2 separate regions of the Homo sapiens genome follow, and region 1 is linked to region 2. Evidence: fine-mapped expression QTL. A gene starts in region 2. The other region holds a variant in brackets. All regions are shown on one strand. Distances are from middle to middle.

Region 1 (2,911 bases), 8.8 kb before region 2:
CAGAGAGAGCGGGCAGAACCTCAGTGAGAGATTTGCCGGTAGGAGGGGGCCACCAGGCAGGAGCTGAGAGAAACACAGCCATTGCCAGACCCACAGAGTGAATACCTCATAGCTCTTCCCTCCCAGCCCCTCCCATTTCCTGTTGGTGCCTCCCATAGGGCAATTACGCGCATTGCCTGCAGTCCATGAGGTCAGCTTCCCACAGCTGAGGGCCAGTGGAGAAGGGTGCAGAGCAGATCCGGAGGAAAATGGAAAATACCCAGCTGCGATCTGCTGTGTCCTGATTACATGGCAGGAACCATACTAGGGACTAGGTGGTTTCGCGTAATCCTTGCCGTAGTGCTGTGTAGTAGAAACAAAATCTCAGATGGCCAACTCAGATGTATAAGGAATGAAGCAGGCCGGGCGCGGTGGCTCACGCCTGTAATCCCAGCACTTTGGGAGGCCCAGGCGGGCGGATCACGAGGTCAGGAGATCGAGACCGTCCTGGCTAACACGGTGAAACCCCGGCTCTACTAAAAGTACAAAACAAAATTAGCTAGGCGTGGTGGCGGGCGCCCGTAGTCCCAGCTACTCGGGAGGCTGAGGCAGGAGAATGGCGTGAACGCGGGAGCTTGCAGTGAGCCGAGATTGCGGCACTGCACTCCAGCCTGGGCGGCAGAGTGAGACTCCCTCTCAACAAAAAAAAAGAAAAAAAGAAATGAAGCATTTGGCTTCACGCAGTGGCTCATGCCTGTAATCCTGGCACTTTGGGAGGCCAAAGTGGGTGGATCATTTGAGGTCAGGAGTTTGAGACCAGCTTGACCAACATGGTAAAACCCCGTCTCTACTGAAAATACAAAATTAGCGGGGCATGGTGGCCGCACACCTGTAATCCTAGCTACTCGGGAGGCTGAGGCAGGATCACCTCTTGAACCCGGGAGCGGAGTTTGCAGTGAGCTGAGATGGTGCCATTGCACTACAGCCTGGGCAACAAGAGTGAAACTCCATCTCAAAAAAAAGAAATGAAGCAATTATAGTTTTTTTAAGTATATAATTTAATTTCCAAATGGAGCCTCCATTCTGCTAGGTGGCAGAAATTTTATGTCAGCTCATGGTTTCTTCAGCCAGTTCTGGATCCCAGCACAGCCCAACTCCTTGAAAACGTCTTCCAGGAGCTTTGTGTGTGTCCATGTGGCTTCCCAAGTACCCAGTCACCAGCTGCTTCTATCCATGGGTGCACACTGACATCTCTCAAGGCATCCTTCTTCCCATCTGGTCTCTTGTCATTGGATCAAATTAATGAGTGCCTGTCCCAACTATGTGATCTCTCTAGGTCCTATTCTCTTTCAACCCTCTAGGGAACTCAGGAAACATTGGGCTATTGTCCATAATGTGGTGATGGTGGTGGTGATGGTGGTGGTGGTGGCGGTGATGGCAGCGGCAGTGGTGATGGCGATGGCGGCAGCGGCGGTGGTG[GTGGTGGTGT/T]CACCCGAGGCTGCCTTGGTCCAGCCAGCACGCAGCCTTCTCTATTCATTCTCTCTTGTGTGGACCCGTGGGGGAATTCTATGAGTCTTGCCACTTCAGGGCTCCACTCAGAAGGCAAGGTGAAGTCTTCTTTGGAGCCAGATTCCCAAATGGATCTGGAGTCTCCATTACACACAACCCCCTAGGGGTTTGACCCAGAATCCTCCTCTCAGGGTCATGTGACAATATCTACCCAACCCTCTTGCTTCTTCTCTCCTCCCTCTTGACTCTTTTCCCACCCGCCTCCTGCCATTGACTCCAGCCTATAGAATCTTTAAACAATCACTGGCGTATTGAAAGAATGGCTCTGGGTAATTAGGCATATTTCTGTTTCCAAATCTACTGTTTATGCATAAGCTTTATTCTCCAAGGCTTGCAAGAATAGGATTTTAAAGTTGAAAGGCCTAGATTTTTGCAACCTAAAGCTTTTTCTTTAAAAAATATTTTTTTTTCTTATGTCTGACATGAGAAAATTAGGAGCTCAAAAATTGAGAGTCGCCATCTTGGTTGTCTGCCTTCTCTGGTGGCATCCCTTTCCTGGGGTAGTAAGCCTCAGCTGCCACCTGAAAAAGAAGGATCTCAAATTACAGGAACTACCCAATATGAAAACCATAGCAATAGTTAATGCAGAAATGGAATCATCACGAAGATAATGCAGCTTAAATTTCAGGCCTCCCTTGGAAGAGCTGCTTCCCCAACCTTGGGAGGACTCAAGCAATAGATTAACATGGTTTTTTTTGTTGTTATTGTTGTTTTGGGTTTTTTTTTTTTTTTTTTTTTTTTGAGACAGAGTCTCACTCTGTTTCCCAGGCTGGAGTGGAGTGGCACAATCTCGGCTCACTGCAAGCTCTGCCTCCCGGGTTCATGCCATTCTCCTGCCTCAGCCTCCTGAGTAGCTGGGACTACAGGCACCCACCACCACGCCCGGCTAATTTTTTGTATTTTTAGTAGAGACAGGGTTTCACCGTGTTAGCTAGGATGGTCTCGATCTCCTGACCTCGTGATCCGCCCGCCTGGGCCTCCCAAAGTACTGGGATTACAGGCGTGAGCCACCGTGCCCGGCGCAGCATGTTTTTAAAAAATATGCAAAAATCAAGATATAATATTTTAACAATTCCTGAAGCCCACATCTCCCACTCAGACTTCGTTTCCACCACACATCTGCTTGTATTGGGTGGTGATGCGGCTCTTTGGGGCTTTAGCCGAAGGGAAGTCGAACTGGGTCTACACAGTAACATCCTCAGCCTGGACTAGGGCAGTGCACACCCTCTACTTTCAGAAGCTCCTCTCTTGTCCTTCTCTAGCTGCATTTCTACCCTAAGGGCAAGGAGTCTACAGGGCCAAAGGGAGCTTCACCCTCTTCCAGGCTACTCCTCAGGTGCGGCAGCCATGGGAATCTGCCTCT
Region 2 (2,911 bases):
GATGCATTTCAAAATCACTTTCATCAGCTTGTTGCTAGCCATCCTGGTGGAAGAGTGGTTTCTAGAAATCCTCCTGAGGCCTGTGGTGCCCACTCACCAGGCATCATGACAGAAAGTGCAGTGCTCAAAGTCACACTGAAACAAATGCATTCTGGCTGTAAAAGGATGGGTTTGTGGGGATGAAGCAAGGCAGGGCAAGGTTGAAGGAAATGCTTCCAATCATGAATATGTAATGGCAATTGCAAGCAGAGAATTTGCTTGTCATTGATACCTAGTTGAAGCCATCAATAATAAAAAACAAATTTTGACCAACTGTGCTAAGGAAAAGACTGAATTAACTTTATAATCTCTTTATAGAAACAGAAAATACTACCACAAAACCATTGCCATAGGAAGAAGCTACTAAAATGCATGCAGCCAAAAAATGTAGGAAAAAGGTATTAGAAGCATAGAAGACAATTAATAAAATGTAGTACATTATTTTTCTAGATTTTGTGATATTTGTAGTATTTGTTCAGTTTTTCTTTTTTCTTTTTTCTTGAGACAGGATCTCACTCTGTTACTCAGGCTGGAGCACAGTGGCGTGATCACAGCTCACTGCAGCCTCAACCTCTCAAGCTCAGGTGATCCTCGCACCTCAGCCTCCTGAGTAGCTGGGACTACAGGCGTGTGCTACCACGCCTGGCTAATTTTTGCATTTTTTATAGAGGTGGAGTTTCACCACGTTGCCCAGGCTGGTCTGGAATTCCTGGACTCAAGTGATCTGCCCGTCTCCACCTCCTGAAGTGTTGGGATTATAGGCATGAGCCACTGTGCCTGGCCCAGTTTTTCTTTTTAATTGTAATTTGTTGTGATTTTTTTCTCCTAAGTAAATATCCCCTTTTATATTTGATGTGTTTGTAAATTTGTATTCTTCTTTCTTAAAAAGGACCCTCCACACTGAATAAGCTTCAGGCCCCACAACACCCAGATCCACTCCTGAATGAATATTATTATTACTAGTCAAAGTATTATTTTATCACATCCATGAGGGAGATAGAATTGCCTCTGTTTTACAGAAAAGTAAAGGCCAGGAGATGAAGTTGCTTACTCATTCTGACTCTGAATGCTTTTCCCGCTAGATTCTGGAATCTTCAGGCTTCTTGGCGCTCAGCCTGTTCGTTGATCCCCCTGCTGCTTCTACCACCCAGATCCCAGCAGGGAAAGCCAGAGGGAGACTAAATAGGAAGAAGAAGCCTCTCTGAATAAGCTGAGAAGGTTCCATAACGTCCCACTCTTCCGCAGCCCGTGGTCAGGGAGCTGGGGTGGGGGTGGGAGTGGCCGCACAGAAACCAAAAACCAACTGGCCCAAACAACCAGCTTTTGCAGGAAGGCAGAACAGGCAGTTAGGGGCTCCGGATCCCAGGCCAGGACCCTCGGACCTCAGTTAACGGCTAGTGTAGCTGAAGCCTGACGTCACCAACAGAGACAAGGAGGAGAGTAGGGAAGGATTACATATCTGTGGTTCTGATTTCCTGAAATAGTCCAGCCCTGCATGAAAGGTCTCTGTGCAGAGTCGGAGTCTAATCCAAGTTCAGGATGGCCACTAAGGGCACCTGATTTATCACTTATCTTTAGCCATGGGCCATGAACATTCCTTTGCTAATCAAGGCTGTTAACAACCCCAAAAGCGTTGCGTCTTAGAGCAGAAAGAATCCCAAGATCACTGAATCCAGGGATTCTTAGGTCCACCCTGAAGAAACAGAGAATCAATGAGTGACACTTCCAAAAGCTCAATGCATGCAATTTAAACTATCATTTTGGCCAAGATATATATTTTTCTGTTGTTAAAATGTCTTCAGTGAAATGATGGAAATAATGGTGGTGATATTTGCTAGTATTTATTGAGTGTTGCCATGTTCTGGGCATTGTGTTAAAAAGCCTTGCACAGTGTATCTCAATCACCATAAGAACCTTAAGAGAAAGACACAATTTTGGTTTTTTTTGAGACAGAGTCTCTGTCACCCAGGCTGAAGTGCAGTTGCGGGATCTTGGCTCACTGCAACCTCCGCCTCCTGGGTTCAAGTGATTCTCCTGCCTCAGCCTCCCAAGTAGCTGGGACTACAGGCACACACCACCATGCCCGGCTAATTTGTTTATTTATTTATTTATTTATTTTCTGGAATGGAGTCTTGCTCTGTCACCCAGGCTGGAGTGCAGTGGCGTGATCTTGGCTCACTGCAGCCTCCGCCTCTCGGGTTTAAGTGATTCTCCTGCCTCAGCCTCCTGTGTAGCTGGGATTACAGGAACCCACCAGCACACCCAGCTAATTTTTGTATTTTTTGGTAGAGACAGGGTTTCGCCATGTTGGCCAGGCTGGTCTCGAACTCCTGACCTCGTGATCTGCCCACCTCAGCCTCCCAAAGTGCTGGGATTACAGGCATGAGCCACTGCGCCTGGCCTAATTATTAACCCACTTTTTCTTCTGAATAAACTAAGGCTAGGGGAGATCAAACTGGTACAAGTCACACAGCAGCATGTCACAGAGTTGGGACCTGAACTCGGCAGGTCTGATTTCCTTGTGCCCGCTCTTAACTGTCACATCGCCCTGCCTCTGTAGATTAAATGCAGTTTTCAATTCTGACATCCTGATCTCCCCAAGTAAAAGTGTGGTGGCCGGGTGTTGCAGCTCATGCCTGTAATCCCAGCATTTTGGGAGGTTGAGGCAGGCAGATGGCTTGAGCTCAGGAGTTCGAGACCAGCCTGGGCAACAGTCTGTGAATCCCTGTCTCTACAAAAAATACAAAAATTAGTTGGGCATAGTGGCATGTGCCTATAGTCCCAGCTCCTCAGGAGGCTGAGGTGAGAGGATGGCTTGAACCTCAGAGGCGGAGGCTGCAGTGAGCCAAGAATGTGCCACTGCACTCCAGCC

Direction of the effects. Positions count from the first base shown, and alleles are read on the strand shown. Sizes are in standard deviations (SD) of each study's normalised expression.
For the expression in tibial artery of the gene that starts at base 1,281 in region 2, allele T in region 1 goes with a lower level than allele GTGGTGGTGT (small effect, 0.23 SD a copy in GTEx).

Evidence for each region. PIP is the estimated chance that this variant, and not a neighbour inherited with it, causes the effect.
Region 1: its variant is fine-mapped to the expression of LINC00570 in tibial artery (GTEx, PIP 0.92).

What each region holds. Positions count from the first base shown.
Region 1 is chr2:11,401,183-11,404,093 of GRCh38, reverse strand. LINC00570 (long intergenic non-protein coding RNA 570) reads right to left here. Exons shown (of 3, transcript NR_047499.1): 3 at 1,017-2,069. Among named protein-coding and RNA genes, the nearest start is that of LINC00570, 8.7 kb to the right of the region's middle. The variant GTGGTGGTGT/T (reference allele first, on the strand shown) is at 1,459.
Region 2 is chr2:11,392,351-11,395,261 of GRCh38, reverse strand. LINC00570 (long intergenic non-protein coding RNA 570) reads right to left here and starts at 1,281. Exons shown (of 3, transcript NR_047499.1): 1 at 1,091-1,281.